Linked DNA regions of Homo sapiens: region 1 is linked to region 2. The links come from fine-mapping of genetic effects on gene expression. Tissue or cell type: monocytes. Region 2 holds a variant in brackets; the other region holds the start of a gene. All regions are shown on one strand. Distances are from middle to middle.

Region 1 (8,000 bases), 52 kb after region 2:
TCTCTAGGCCCCATCTAACCTCCTGCAAGTCACTCAGTGACTTCCCTAAGCTTTAGACTCCCTTCCCCTATCCTCACTTCTCCCCTCCCCCTCAACTCTCTCCCTAACCTCCACGACCCCTAGAATTTTTGTCTATGTCCCCAGAAGCCTCAGCCACCAGGAGGACCCCCCATTCTTCCACTCTCCTCCAACACCGTCAGCCCTCTCAGCTCCCTCCTGGGCTCCCCCAGCTCTCCTCTCCACTGCACTCCTAGTCCTGCACACAAAGCCAGCCACCTCTCCATTCCTCAGAACAAAGAAATAGTCGCTCTGCACACTCCCCACTCCACCTGCCCACCACAGAGATTCCAAGGGGACCCCCAGCCTCCACAGCCATCCCTGGACCTCTGGTCCCTGCTTGGCAGAAAAGGACCCTTTGTTCTAAGGGATATGATGGTTGGGGTTTGGGAAAGGAGAAAGGGAAGAACAGGGGACTAAAGAGAGAAAGGGGACCTGTGAGGTTTGGGGCTTGTGGAGGTAGGAAGTAGAGCAGAGAGAACAGAGGAGGTGGAGGACTGAAGACAGCCTGGGAGAACAGAAATGGAGTGAAAAGAAAAAGGAAGCATGGAGGGGGCTACACAGAGAGATCCTGTGAGGATGGGACAGAGAAAGGGGCAGGTTAAACTTACATTCCTCCTCCTAGGAGGAGCTCCCAGGGAATGAGGCAAGGAATGGGGAGGGGCTGAGGTGTCAGGGCTTAGCTGTGACCCATCCCCCCAAGGAGGTAGCAGGGGACACCATCTTCTTCAAATAATGTCTTTTCCAGCGGGTGCCCCTCTACTTCCCACCACAGTATAAAAAGAAAGGAGACAGCTGGTGTGCTGGGGGGAGGGGGAGAGGGGATCCAGGGTTTGTTGGCTAAGAACCAACTCCCCCTTCTGTAACCACAGTTTTCCGGAGGTGGCCCTCCCCTTCCGACCGGCCCAAACTGACAACCACCCTTCTCCGGTGGCCTCTTTGCCCTCTCAGATCCACCCACTCAGCCCCCGACTCCCTGCTGCCAGCCAGATTCCCAAATTACCTGCCCCACACAGCCAGCCCCCATAGTAGAAAGAAGAGCCAGTCCCCCCACCACCAAAAACAAAAACAAAAACAGAGCATGAACACCCAGATGTCTGACGTCCCAGCTCCCCACAATAATGGAAAAGGGATCCCAGTAGCTACCTGCCCCCACAGAACCGCTCTCTATACCCCCTAGCCAGGTCTTCCCCCAACCAGCTCCCCCATGGCTTTCCTTTTTAGGGTGGAACCAAATTTCTGCGGTTTCAAAAAACCTCCCCCGCCCCCCTTGGCTCTACTCCAGGGTCTCAGCTCAAACGGTTGAAAAAATAAACAGACTTTTGGAGCTGGGGCCTGGGCTGGCGCAGGCTGTGAAGAGCCTGTCTGCCACCCCACTGTTCCACCACACTTCAGCCACCTCACCCCGGCCCTCTGTTTGTCTTAGGCCCTACTCGAATCCCCAGTTGCTTTCCAGATAGCAAAATCTAATCCCAACCCCCTAAGGAAAGTCCTTTTAAAGCTGCTTTCCCTGGCCCTCCACCCCCAACCCAGGATGGAACCTCTGTCTCTCCCAGTTTAGCATCAAGACAGGTAGCCTGGCTAGGAACTACCAGGGAGGTGGAGGGGAGGGCTTTCCATCACCCTTAAGGACTCCTAAGGGGTACTGCTCCCTTGGCTGAAGTTGGTGATCAGCATAGGCTGGCACCAGGGTAGTAGGGCACTCAGGTTGGAGAGAAGCCAGAGATTAAACCAACTCTGGGCTGGGACCTGTCCTTTCTGATAATGGGTACAGTGCGGGGGCCCCAAAGGAGCTGGGAGGTGCTGTCTGCAGGCACCACCTTCCTTTCAGCTCTGACTTATTCACCTGCAAGTCAGCTTCATCATTTCCTGGGGTCTGGGTGTGGAAAGGTCAGGGCACTTGGGAATGGGGCTGGGTACAAAGGCAGGGATAAAGGGTACTTGGAGAGGAGTGGCCAAGAGGTCATGATGGGGGAGGCGTGTGGATAATTATACACCCAGACTCATGAAATGCTAGGTGAAGGGACCCCAAGACGAGCAGATAAGAGAATGAGAGCGCTGGGGGAGGAGGAGGAAGGGCAGGGAACACAATGCATAGTGCCAGGTGTGTCAGCCTAAGGGTTTCAGGTTGGGAGAAGGAAGAGCTAGGAGGCTGGCGGGGCAGATAGGGATGGAGGCCCTATGTTCCAGGCAGAAGGGCTCAGGATGGAGGAAAGGAGCCCAGCTACACAAAGACCTCTGCTCCCTTCACCTAGAGGTGATGGTTTGGGGGAAGTAAGCCGTCCCTCGGCCGTCCCGACCCCAGCCACCCGCCCACCCAGAGGGGAGAACTGAATCACAGCTGGAAAGTCCATTTGCGAGGAGAGGAGGAGCTGACTTTTGTCTTGGAGGGGTGGTGGTGGTGGTGGGAGGAAGCCGGGAAACCACCCCCTCCCGTCCCCTCCGCCGGATGGCGGGGACAAAGGGGGAACGACCAAGCCAGCGATTGGGGAGTGATGGGGGGTCGCCACGCCAAGCCCAAGCCGGTGGGGCCCGGGGTGAGAGGAGGTGCCGGAGCTTCCACCGCCCCCACCCGCGAGACACACACCTCCCTCTTCCCGCTCCGTCCCTTACCGGAGCAACTTTCTTTCAAGCGGCCTAAAGCACTCGGTCCCGCCGGCTTGGAGGCGACCAAGCCCAGGTCCGCTCCGCTCCCTCCCGGGATCCCAGCACCGTCGCGTCTGCCGCTCCCCCCACCCCTACCCACTCGCTCGCAGTCCCCACCCACCCCGTCCCGCCGCTCGCCGATCCACCGCTCCGCCCGATTTTGGCGCCCAGAAAGCAGGCGGGGAGACAGGAGATGCACCGCGGGTGCCGGGGTTCGGGGAGCACCCGAGGACCGCGGCGAAAGGAGAGGGGTTTCCGAGCCCACCTTGCTCGCCAGCTCTCTGCTCCGGTCGATCCGCGCCCGCGTGAGGGATTCGATCCGAGACATAATCGGACGGGGGGACCAGGGAGGACGCGGCGCGGACCCCGGCGTCCTGTATTGTTGGGGGAAGGCGGGGGGAGGGGTTCGGCCCGCACGCGTTGGTCTCGGGGACAGGAAGTCTGACTCCCCTCGCCCGGCACCCAGCACCAGTTCCTCAAACCCGAGTCTCCTCCCCCGCCCAAGCTCAGGAAGGGGGTAGGCGGAGCGGAGGGAGGGCGGGGTGCCCGCGCGCAGGACGGGACGCCAGGGTTTGTGTGGGGGCAGCTCGGAGAGGTACGAGGGTCCTAGGACAGGTTTGAGAGGCCCCTCTGCCTATTTCCCCTCCAGCGCCTGGGGGCGCCCTCTAGCCCCAGAGACCCGCCTCTTAGCTCTTCTTTTCCTAAAACCCAGCCCCGCAGCCCTCGCCGGACCCAGGTTGGCCCTTTCCCCTCTGCCCTCCCCTTCTTCCCTTCTCCCCTCGCCCTCCCTTTTTCCCTCCCCTACTGCGTTACCTCAGTCTTTAAAGACCCGCAGGCAGGAGAATTCCATCCGCCCCCAGCTCTTAGAAAACCCAGGACCAGTTCCTTCCTGGCCTTCGGGGTCCCATCAAAGCAGGCCTGAGCAGACTGACCCCTTTTACGATTGGGGGCAGGGGTGGCCAGAGGGAGAGGAAATCAAAGGAGAACTAAACGCTGGATCTTCAGTACACGGGAAGGGTAGGATTCACTCCCAGAGGTCGAAGAACAGAGAGGAGAGAATTCTCCCACATGCCCCACCCTTCTGGGGCCTTCCTGACCCCACTCTGCCCTCCTCCTAGCTCCGCCTCTGCCAGCTACTTTGGGGGACTAGGTTGGGATTCTCCACTTTTACCGAAGGCCTTCCATGTGTCTAACTGCAGTTCTCTCTGTTGCAAGTTAAGCCGGAACTGAAAGACCAGAAACCAGCCTGCCCTAGTCAAAGAAAGTTAGGGCCCAACCAGCCTCTCCCCAAGAAGCAGGGTAAGGTGGGGCATTCATCTCTCTGGACCCTTTTCCCCAGCCTGAGCCAGCCTTTGGGTGAGTTTCCTGCTATTGGGAAAATTCCTCCTCCAGTCTAACTATGATCACTTACAGTGAAGTTCATTTCTGCCTCTCAGGGTCTCCCATTTCTCTGGAGAAACCAGAAGCACAGAGAGGCCTGGGACAGAGCCTTCGGTTAGCAGGGTCCTGCCTGATTCTGGCCCCAAAGGGCGTGGGAGAAGAAGGGAGGGAGGGGAGACCCAACCCAGATCCAGCAGTTCTCTGCCCTGGCTCAGCAGTGGGGCCAGGCTGCAGGTTTCAAGCCCAACTCAGCACTCTTGTAGGTGCCAATTTTAGCCTCTGCCACTATTTTTGGGCTCCACTACCTCACCACTGGCTGAGCTGGTTGGGCTCCTCACCCCCAGCACTACCCCCACACTGCCCCTCCGGCTTCCCCTCCTTCCTAGCAACTCCTTCACCTCCTTCTTCACCCATTCCCCTGTTTAGAATCCTTAAATAGCAAAGACCAGGAAAAAGGAAGAGGAAATAAACCGTGCCCAGTTCAGGCTGGATGGACATTAGAAAGCAGGAAGGACTTCCCCAGGGCCACAGCTTGTTCTTCCTGGCTTGCACCTGCCAAGTATACCTACGGGGAGGGTGTAGGAACTCCCCCAAACCAAGAGGCCTGAGGCTCCTGGCCCCAGAACTCCAGACTCACCTCCCCTGAGGTGGGCAGCCAAGACTCAGGAATGTACTAAATTTAAAAACAGACAGCCAGAGGCTAGAATCTTGGCCTCAAGGTTCCACCCACTGGAGGCCCAGAGACAAGATCTGGGGTGGGACCTCAGCTTCTCTCCCAGGCCTGGGGCAGGAGGGTGCTGCAAGCTATGGATAGAATCTTAAAGGGCCACACTCCAGCCTGGGTACCCAGGAAACATAGAATTTGAACCCTGGGGTTTTTCAAGCGACCTCATGGTCCCTCAACTCAACTAAGAAGGTCTCTATGAAAGAAGAGGACCCGACCCTCCAACTCTTTTCTGTCTCCCACCCCAACCTTCAGTCTACTTTCCATCCCACCTGCTGTTACCCTACCCCTCACCCTATGCCCTCTTCTTCCCCTTAGGAGATGAATAACAAGGAAAGGGACTAGGGACAGGGAAAAGAAAAGTGTTCTGCCTTTAAAAACACCTGTGTTTAGTGAGCTTGGCCTGCAGCTTGACTCAGTTTCCGTTTTCTATATCCTCTTGAACAATGAACACTTTTCCCTTCTCCTTGGTGTCACCTGCCCCCCTTTTCCAAGACCCTTCTTCATTCCAGCGCCCCCTCTACTCCTATCCAGTGATATCTTCCAGATTTTCAGAAATAATTTTTTAGATACACAGAAACAAACATTTCTACCAGGATCTAAAAATAGCCATCACCTTCTTTAGCCCATTTAACTTGACGAAATGTGTCCCTCCCATTTCAGGGGTAGGGAGGAGGTCCCAGGGAAGAACCTGGTTGCCAAAGTCTCGGCCAGTTGGAGAAGAGATGGGTCTCCCGAGGATACCCAAGCCCAAGCTCTACACTGTCCCAAGGTGGTTTGTTTTTCTTCTTTCTTCTATTGGTCTGGACCTTGTATATTCTGGGAGGAGGTGATTAAGGCCAAATTGCCTTAAGTGGCCATCCAGCCAGAAGCTGGAAGAAGGGAAGGATGAGAGGGAATGAACTGTTGTGTTACGGCTATTGAGAGAAACAGTGGCAATACACAGCCAAAGCCCTGAGTTTCTAATACGGCGCCACCTCTTATGAGCTGTGAGATCTTGGGCAAAGTAACTAACCTTTAAGTATTTGTCTGTAGAATTGAGATTGAAATACTTATCTTTGCCAGAATTGTTATAAGAATTAAATGAGTTGAAAGTGTTTCATCAAGTGTGCAATGCTACTCAAGTAGGAGGGACTAAGCTACTTCCTTCTCTCACTGCTTGACTGAGCTTCTCTCCAGCCCCACCCCCTGATGTTTACTGCTTATGGAGAAAGAGATTAAGTGAAGCAGGCCCACACATTCATGAAGGTGGAAGGAAGATGTAGCAGGAGATGGTGGAGAGGGAAACAGAGGAAGACAGGATGACAGACGTGGGGAGGAAAGGCTGAGCGAGGCAATGTCCTGACTCACTCTGGCGCTTCCCTCTTTCCCATCTGGGCTCCAGAGTCTCTGCCCTCATTCCCCTTCACCAGGTTGCTCAACCCTCCATCAGACTGTTAGGTCAAGGGTGGACAAACAGACCAACCGGGATCTGGATGGCCCCTGGGCAGTACTGACTTCCCCTACCATTCCCATGGCAAGAAAAGGGAGTGATTCCACTAGCAGACTCCCCTACCCTGCAGTGAGACAGCCTGTAGGAAGGTGAGACTCAGACCCCAAGGTTTCTGCTTTTGCTTTGTTCCTTCGAGATCTCCATTCCCCCATGGGAGAGAAACCTCTCTGTCCCACCTGCCCTCCCCTCCCATCAGCTTTCAGATTCTCCAGCTGCTCCTCTTCTGAGACTCACCCAGTCTCATGCCTCCATTAGCCTCAACTCCCGACCCATGGCCTGTGGTGAGAGGTGCTAACAACATGACCTGCTTTCATCTTGACCTTCCCAGCCCACCCAGAGAAAAGGGAATCTTGGCTAAAAAAAGGCTGGAAGAGGGGAGAACCCTGGCACTGCGGGTGGGGCTGGGAGGAGCCCAGGCAACCTTACTGGTGAGAATCTCATGGCTCTTCAAGGTGAATATGATGATGATTTCCCTGGGGTTTCTTTCAATACTCAGAAGCCGCCCCGAGTTGGAAAGCACATGCATACTTGGGGAGGCCAGGGGAGGAAAAGGGGGGCGGCTCACTCTGACAGTAAATGAAGAAAGTGGAAACAAATTCAAGGAGCAGGCAGAGCTCCCGGTTTCACCAGAGCCCAACGGTTGGTAATAAGGATGAGAACAATGTGCCTTCACTTCCTGGGATCAGAACAGCACATGGCCGCACATGTACGGGTATGCATGTGCTTCCATAATCATATACTTTCCCAGCTTCTACTCTGCCTGTGGTCTAATTTCAACTCCTTCAGCTGCTGTACCCACCCATAAAATTATGAGTGTAAAAGCACTTTGCAAACCCTGATACTCTATGAAGAAGTAAAAAGTAGTGCTGTAATTATTATCATTATTATGTCCAATGGTTGAGGTTTCCGCTGCCCACCTGTCAGCTATGTGAGGCCTAAAGAGAGGGAGGGCTAGGCCATTCCTCAGCTTCTGAGGTTCCTGGCCCTTTTCCCCTTCCATCTGTCCACAGCTGACTGCTAAGCTGGATGCGTAGGGGAAAGCAGAGAAAAGGTGATTTACTGGGACACAGAGACACAGGCTGGAAGAGATAGCATGTGTTTCCTTAAAATTTGAAGCATTTGGCTGGGCACAGTGGCTCACACCTGTAATCCCTGCACTTTGGGAGGTAAAGGCAAGAGGATTTCCTGGGCCCAAGAGTTAGAGGCTGCAGTGAGCTATGATTGTGCCATTGTACTCCAGCCTGGGAGACAGAAACCCCCTCTCTTAAAAAAATAAAAAAATAAAAAATGGAACCATTGCTCTGAGTTTCTAATAGGGGGAGTGGTGGGAGGTGGCGATGGTGGGATGGGAGAAAGGGAACTGGAGAGGGCAGTGGGTCCCAAGCCTCCTGCTTCCCCAGCTGACTCCTACCTTGGCCTTTCCGGTCATGCCCGAGAGGAAGCTGAAGGTCTGTCGCAGGGAGGAGCCTACCCGGGTACCTGAATGTCCTTCCAGCTGGCTGCAGCTGCATAGAGAAAAAGAAGACATGAGGAGATGGAGGTAATGCTGGAAATGAAGAAAAAGATAACTTCCTGAGAGATGGTGGATGAAGGTGCCATGACCAGCAGAGCCAGAATGGGAAGGAAGAAAGAGGAAGGATTGGGAGAGAAAGATAAGCCCCCATCCTGACCTCCTAGGACTTCCTGGATGTGGGCATTTCA
Region 2 (8,000 bases):
CTATTTTACATATCTACATTAATACATTCACTGTAGCTCAAATCTAGGCCTCTGAAAATCACAAAACAGAAACACAAAACATAAGTCTTTTAAGATATAACCACTATCATTACCACAAATATTTTATTAGTCTTTCTCTGAGTAATGGTACTTCTCGATATAAAAATGTTTAAAGTTCATAAAATTACTATAAAACGTATTAATATTGACATAGGTTTAAATGAAAATTATTTCAGACTTATCACAGCTCACTTTAAGATTTGCTTTTTTTTGGCCGGGCGTGGTGGTTCACGCCTGTAATCCCAGCACTTTGGGAGACCGAGACAGGCGGATCACGAGGTCAGGAGATCGAGACCATCCTGGCTAACACGGTGAAACCCCATCTCTACTAAAAATACAAAAAATTAGCCGGGCATGTTGGCGGGTGCCTATAGTCCCAGCTACTTGGGACGCTGAGGCAGGAGGCGACAGAATCTTGCTCTGTTGCCCAGGCTGGAGTGCAGTGGCGCGATCTCAGCTCACTGCAAGCTCCACCTCCTGGGTTCACGTCATTCTCCTGCCTCAGCCCCCGAGTTGCTGGCACTACAGGCGCCTGCCACCATGCCTGGCTAATTTTTTTGTTTTATTTTTAGTAGAAACGGGATTTCACTGTATTAGCCAGGATGGTCTCAATCTCCTGACCTGATTCATCCGCCTCGGCCCTGAAAGTGCTGGGATTACAGGCCAAGATTCACTTTTGTACAGACTTGTACAAAACCAAAGGACTTGAATACTAAAGAGATAATTCCGTCTCCTAATTCAATAATTTCTCTTTTTTTTTTTTTTTTTGAGATGGAGTCTTGCTCTGTTGCCCAGGCTGGAGTGCAATGGAGCAGTCTCAGCTCACTGCAACCTCCGCCTCCAGGGTTCAAGCAATTCTCCTACCTCAGCCTGCTGAATAGCTGGGATTATAGGTGCCTGCCACCACACCTGGCTAATTTTTATACTTTTAGGAGAGTCAGGGTTTCACCATGTTGGCCAGGGTAGTCTCGAACTCCTGACCTCAAGTGATCCGCCTGCCTCGGCCTCCCAAAGTGCTGGGATTACAGGTGTGAGCCACCGCACCTGGTTTTTTTTTTAAGACAGGGTCTCACTCAGTCACCCAGTCTGGAGTGCAGTGGTGCAAACACAGCTACCTGCAGCCTTAATCTCCTGGGCTCAAGCCATCCTCCTGCCTCAGCCTACTGAGCAGCTGGGATTAAGGTGTACACCATAACACCTGGCTAATTTTTTTTTTTTTTTGAGATGGAGTCTCGCTCTGTCACCCAGGCTGGAGTGCAGTGGCGCAATCTCAGCTCACTGCAAGCTCCACCTCCCGGGTTCACGCCATTCTCCTGCCTCAGCCTCCTGAGTAGCTGGGACTACAGGCGCCTGCCACCACACCCGGCTAATTTTTTTTGTTTTATTTTTAGTAGAGACGGGGTTTCACCTTGTTAGCCAGGATGGTCTCGATCTCCTGACCTCGTGATCCACCCGCCTCGGCCTCCCAAAGTGCTGGGATTACAGGTGTGAGCCACCGTGCCCGCCTAATTTTTAAAATTTTTTTGGAGAGATGGGGTTTTGCTATGTTGCCCAGGCTGGCCTCAAACTCCTGGGCTCAAGTGGTCCTACGCCTTGGCCTCCAGAAGTGTTGGGATTACAGGCATGAGCCACCGTGCCCCAATTCTACAATTTCTTTAACTAATTATAAAGTAATTACTCCTAGCATTTATCTAAATCCCTCATTACTATTAATTACACCCAGTTTTCTCTTGCTCCTTCTGAATCACTCCTGACTGTACCAACAAGTTGACAAGAATTCACATGTCCCCTGCCCTATCCATCCATACCTGATGTAAATATACATAGGTTCAAAAGCTTCTCGGCCAGATGCTGGCTCAATGCAGCCTGAACCTTTGCCCCGCAGGAAGACTTTGGCACCTGTTTCAATCTGAATGTGCTGCAAATAGGAGCAGCCTGGACCTTCCACCTTCTCCTTGACATTAAAAGTGGGTACAGCATGTTCTAGACCCACAAATAATTTATCTTGAACATAATGCATCTGTAGGAAGAACAGAATACTTCAGATTAAACAGAATATATAATTAAATCCTCAATCTTTGAAATAAGTCAATAAGAAATTATAGCAAAGACAGTCTCCTGTAAAACTGGGGTAGAGTGTTGGGTAGTACAGTCAGCCCTGTGATACTCTTCAGTGAAGGCTGCTCTCTCCAACCCTTTTTTCTAGGAGGAATGTATCAGCAAAGTCTTACTTCATCAGACTCAGCCTTCTTAGTCCTCCAGTTGTCATCAAGTTTACAAATACAAATTAAAACCACTAACTTCAAAATGTACAACATGTATACCTTCTGCTCTATCAATCTCCTTTCTAGAATATATCAATATGAAGAAATGTGTGATCAGGTGTTCATTATACCGTGGAGAGCTGGATAACACACAAACAGAATACCTATGGCAGGTAACTTTCGGGATTGGAATTTGGAATTTCACGATTTTTTTTTCTTTGTATGTATTACTTGGCACTTTTTTTTTTTTTTTTTTTTTTGAGATGGAGTCTTGCTCTGTGGCCCAGGCTGGAGTGCAGTGGCATGGTCTCAGCTCCCTGCAACCTCCACCTCCCGGCTTCAAGCAATTCTCCTGCCTCAGCCTCCCAAGTAGCTGGGGTTACAGGTGCCTGCCACCATGCCCGGGTAATGTTCGTGACGGGGTTTCACCACGTTGGTCAGGCTGGTCCAAATTCCTGACCTCAAATGATCCACCCACCTTGGCCTCCCAAAGTGCTGGGATTACAGGAATGAGCCACTGTGCCTGGCCAGCACATATCATTTTTATAGAAATGATAATGCTATTAACGATCCCTCCCCAAAACATACCCCTGACTGGAAGGGAGGCTTCTGGCTAACAGCTGGAGACAACTGAGCGATGGGTGCTGGCTGGTGATAGACAGTTACTGTTGCACCATTAAAAGTTGGACTTGTTCCTGTGGCAGCTTTTACCACTCCATTGGTGATAATTTCTTTGATCCGGTTTACAGCTCCTTAGAAAAACACAGACAGTAAAACTGAATGGAATGAACTGACTAGTGCCCAGGCAGGCCAGTGTTCAATTATTCACCGTAAATCTGCTTTATACGTTACCCAAATATGTGGCTCTCCATCCCTCTAAACTCCCATACAAATTCGTGTATAGTTCATGAACAAGGGTTAGAACAGCCATCAGGGACACTTTGCCAACTTGCTATACAGAGCCCTGTACTTTGCTCTTCACAAAAAGTGCTACGTGAGCCAAAAACATTACTTACTGTCCACTAATTCCCGTGTCTGGCCCTGAACATGAAGATATAATGGACGATCCCTATAAAGAGAAACAAAAAAGGATGATCTCAATGTGGTCAAAACCAAAAAAGGAGTCAAATGGGTCACCAGATCTAATTTGTAATGTTTCAAGTTTCCAAATAACCAAAAGGGACTATATACATTAGAAGGGTTTTTGCTAGCTAATGTCTCAGAACATGCTTTAACAGCTGGGGAACAAATAAACTTCTTGATTTTAAAAGTCAACTGGCCCACAGAGTTCAGATCAAATCTGTTCTTATGGATTCACTACCATTATTTTCCAGTCTATTGAGATAACCCAATATTTAAGAACAGAATTCCTTTTTGCTGGTTGTCTAATAGGTTATAAACAAATGTGGTCTCGTCTATCCAAATCAATGGGGCAAGCTGGGTGCTGTGGCTCATGTCTGTAATCCCAGCACTTTGGGAGGCTGAGGTGGGTGGATGACATGAGGCCAAGAGTTTGAGACCAGCCTGGCCAACATGGCAAAACCCCATCTCTACTGAAATTACAAAAATTAGCCGGGCATGGTGGCACGCCTGTAGTCCCAGCTACTCAGGAGGCTGAGGCACAAGAATCACTTGAACCCAGGAGGTGGAGGTTGCAATGACCCAAGATCATGCCATTGCACACCAGCCGGGGCAACAGAACAAGACTCTGTCTCCAAAAAAAAAAAAAAAAAAAAAAAAAAAACCACACACACACACACACACACACACACA[CACACACACACACAA/C]AATTAATGGGGAAAGATTGATCATGCATATAGAGAAACCTCTTAAGGTCTACATCAACTGATAATTTAGATTCTAAATGTGAAGAGGACTTAAATTATAATAAAGTGATCAATAACCATATATAGTTAATAAAAAGTAGCAGGTAAAAATAACTTTTTAAAGACAAAGTTCAAAACAGCAATCAACACATATAGAAAGTTTAAATACATTCTTGGGGCTGGGCACGGTGGCTCATGCCTGTAATCCCAGCACTTTGGGAGGCCGAGGCAGGGGAACCACCCGAGGTCAGGACTTTTGAGACCAGCCTGTCCAACATCGTGAAACCCCATCTCTACTAAAAATACAAAATTTAGCCGGGTGTGGTGGCGCATGCTTGTAATCCCAGCTACTCGGGAGGGTGAGGCCAGAGAATTGCTTGAACCCAGGAGGCAGAGGTTGCAGTGAGCCGAGATGGCGCCATTGCACTCCAGCCTGGGCAACAAGAGCAAAAACTCCTTCTCTAATAAATAAATAAATAAATAAATTCTTGGCTTGGGGTAGGAATTAAATTTTGCCACCTTATTTTGTGTAGTTTAAGCTAATGTTAAAAATGTTGCATTCCCTAAGTACCTATCAACTGACAGTGAAGAGAAACTCAAACACGGAATGATGGAAGGAATAAAATGAAACAGATTAAGTCTTTACCTGAATAATCACAAACTATAACCATCATAAAGACAAAAAAAAAAAAAAAAAAAAAGAGCCCATTTGTGAGGGGAACTATTTCCACAGAAAAAAGTTAAGAAGTATATACAATGCCGGGCGTGGTGGCTCACGCCTGTAATCCCAGCACTTTGGGAGGCCGAGGGGGGTGGATCACAAGGTCAGGAGATCAAGACCATCCTGGCTAACACGGTGAAGCTCTGTCTCTACTAAAAATACAAAAAATTAGCCAGGCGTGGTGGCAGGTGCCTGTAGTCCCAGCTACTCGGGAGGCTGAGGTAGGAGAATGGCATGAACCCAGGAGGCAGAGTTTGAAGTGAGCCGAGATCACGCCACTGCACTATAGCCTGGGCGACAGAGCAAGACTCCATCTCAAAAAAAAAAAAAAAAAGTATATACATTATTTCTGCAGATCATATGGAACAGAAAGAAGAAAAAAGAGTATATACATTAAATGTTAGTGGTTAGTATCTTCTTTTACACTTTCCTATAATTTGTTTCCTCCAATAAAAACATTAAATGTGAAATAAAAGTCCAAAAACAGGTCCCAACATCTTGTATCTGTTTGATATCCAGAATTCTGCTATAGTGTGCACACACATACCCCTCAAACCTTGAATCAAATATTGTGTACACGTATTACCTAAGGATAAAAAACATGAGGCTAACGTGAGTCATACACCCAACCCTTCCATAAACAAGATAAGAGAATACGCACCCTGGTCCCACTTTGGCTTTTTCCTCAGTTGTCATGAACCTCCCTCGAGTTGATACTGCAGCCCCACTAAGTCGGCTGATCTAAAAAAGGAAATGTTCAATTAAAAAAATGTGGCAATTGGTTGATTTCAATGGCAGACAGATTTTCTTCCCATTCATTCATTCAACCAAGTAAAGAAGGAAAGAATTCTCTCCTGTATCTGAAATTTTGATTCCATGGTTTCTTACTCAAACCAACCCAGAGAATTCATTTATATCCATTCCATTATCTTCCTCTGAAGTTAAATTAAACCCAATCCTGACTTTAGAGACTATGACCCAAACCCACTAATAAATATCTGACGCCTGTCTATTTAGAGGTCTTCTTTATCTGAATCCACTCACCGCCCTCCCCAAAGAGTCTCAATGCCTCCTCACCTCGTCTTGAGTCTGTCCTCGAGTCAGCAAGTTCCTACATGTGAGAGGCACATCATTAATTTCTACTTCAGCTACCACCAGGTCATCCTTGCTTTTATTGCTAGTTAGGCCTTTGCCAGGAGCCTGAAGCTAGAAAAAAGAGAAATTAGATTAAAAAGTTTTTATGATGAGATAAAGTCTATTTTTTTATTTTATTTATTTACTTATTTATTTTTTCATTTTTTTGAGATGGAGTCTGTCGCCCAGGATGGAGTGCAGTGGCGTGATCTCAGCTCACTGCAACTTCCGCCTCCTGGGTTCAAGCAATTCTCCTGCCTCAGCCTCCTGAGTAGCTGGGATTACAGGTGTGCAGCACCATGCCCAGCTAATTTTCGGATTTTTAGTAGAGACGGGGTTTCACCGTGTTGGCCAGGCTGGTCTCGAACTCCTGACCTCAGGTGATCCACCTACCTCGGCCTCCCAAAGTGCTGGGATTACAGGCGTGAGCCACTGTGCCCAGCTGAGATAAAGCCTTTTAGTCATCCAATGTACAACTATCCTTTCCCAAGTCCCACACCTCCCTACCCTTCCCTTCATCTGCCTGTAAACACAGTTGGTCATTCTTCATAAACGAATTAACAAGCAAACAAAAATCTCACTAAAATGACATTAAATAAAGTCAATAATAAAGTCAATCTGCTTGAAGGCCACAATCAAGATTTCTCTGTGACCTTGGCCCTATGTGCATTTTTATGACCACCTAATTACAGAAGCTCTAGGGACTAGAAGCTACAACCTTCAAAAAGAAAATTAAAGGGCCAAGTTATGATACTCTATAGCTCAGTTAGTTGGCTGTACATGGAGTAAAACACAATAGAAGGTAGAGGAGCAATGCCTACAATACATATACCTCATGCATACAATAGGAAGTTGTCTTTGTGCCACTCCTATAATCCTAACATAAAATCCAACTAACTCCATCCTTGTAAAGCTCTCAAAAACCCTTAAATTGTATCTAACTAATAATTCCTCACTCTATTACAGCAGAACAAAGAAGAATGAAAAAACAGTAAGATGGTAAAACCTGATCCGGTTTCTTTCAATTTAAACTACATGGAGTTTGTGATCAGCCTGGTCAACATGGTGAAACCCCGTCTCTAGTAAACATACAAAATTAGCCAGGTGTGGTGGTTCGTGCCTGTAATCCCAGCTACTCCGGAGGCTCAGGCAGAATTGCTTGAAGCCGGGAGGCAGAGGTTGCAATGAGCCGAGATCACGCCATCGCACTCCAGCCTGGGCAACAAGAGCAAAACTCTGTCTCAAAAATAAATATATAAATTACAAAAAAAGGCTGGGACCGGTGGCTCACATCTGTAATCCTAGCACTTTAGGAGGCTGAGGAGGGTGGATCGCTTGAGCCCAAGAGTTTCAGACCAGCCTGGGTAACATGGCAAAACCACATCTCTAAAAAAATACAAAACATTAGCTGGGCACGGTGGCATGAGACTGTAGTCTCAGCTACTCAGCAGGCTGAGGCAGCAGAAAGCAGTGATTGTGCCACTGAACTCCAGCCTGGGCAACAAAGCAAGACTCTATCACCAAAAAAAAAAAAAAAAAAGACAGAAAGACAGAAAGAAAGAAAGAAAGAATGAACGAAGGAACCAAACAGGCTCATGCCTGTAATCCCAGCACTTTGGGAGGCTGAAGCAGGGTGGGCAACATGGCAAACCCATCTCTTCAAAAAATAAAAAAAATTAGCCGGGCATGGTGGCATGCGTCTGTAGTCGCAGCTACTTGGGAGGCTGAGCCTGGGAGGAAGAGACTGTGCCACTGCACAGTCACTGCCTGGGCAATCAAGCCAGACCCTGGAACCACAGGCATGCACCACACCTAGCTAATTGTTTTTGTATTTTCTGTAGAGACAGGGTTTCACCATGTTGCCCAGGCTGTTCTTGAACTCCTGGCCTCAAGTGATCCACCCACCCGCTTTAACCTCCTGAGTAGCTGGGACTACAGGGGCCTATCTCCCCAACCTATGTCTAGAAAATCTGCTCAAGAAGGTAACATACTGTT

Which allele goes with the higher level. Alleles are on the strand shown, and positions count from the first base shown. SD is a standard deviation of normalised expression in the study named.
For the expression in monocytes of the gene that starts at base 3,151 in region 1, allele C in region 2 goes with a higher level than allele CACACACACACACAA (large effect, 1.2 SD a copy in Kim-Hellmuth 2017).

The links. PIP is the estimated chance that this variant, and not a neighbour inherited with it, causes the effect.
Region 1: it holds the start of ARHGEF2, and the variant in region 2 is fine-mapped to the expression of ARHGEF2 in monocytes (Kim-Hellmuth 2017, PIP 0.95).

The regions. Positions count from the first base shown.
Region 1 is chr1:155,975,397-155,983,396 of GRCh38, forward strand. ARHGEF2 (Rho/Rac guanine nucleotide exchange factor 2) reads right to left here and starts at 3,151. Exons shown (of 22, transcript NM_001162383.2): 1 at 2,969-3,151. The coding sequence starts at 3,031. ARHGEF2-AS2 (ARHGEF2 antisense RNA 2) reads left to right here and starts at 3,243. Exons shown (of 3, transcript NR_183460.1): 1 at 3,243-3,298; 2 at 3,924-4,059; 3 at 5,471-7,592. RefSeq lists enhancers at 526-785, 928-1,429, 1,546-1,625, 3,756-3,825, 4,287-4,908 and 2 more and silencers at 3,146-3,305, 3,366-3,415.
Region 2 is chr1:155,923,764-155,931,763 of GRCh38, forward strand. KHDC4 (KH domain containing 4, pre-mRNA splicing factor) reads right to left here. Exons shown (of 14, transcript NM_014949.4): 3 at 5,949-6,077; 4 at 5,533-5,612; 5 at 3,341-3,393; 6 at 2,913-3,076; 7 at 1,869-2,080. It also overlaps SCARNA4. Among named protein-coding and RNA genes, the nearest start is that of KHDC4, 6.6 kb to the right of the region's middle. The variant CACACACACACACAA/C (reference allele first, on the strand shown) is at 4,098.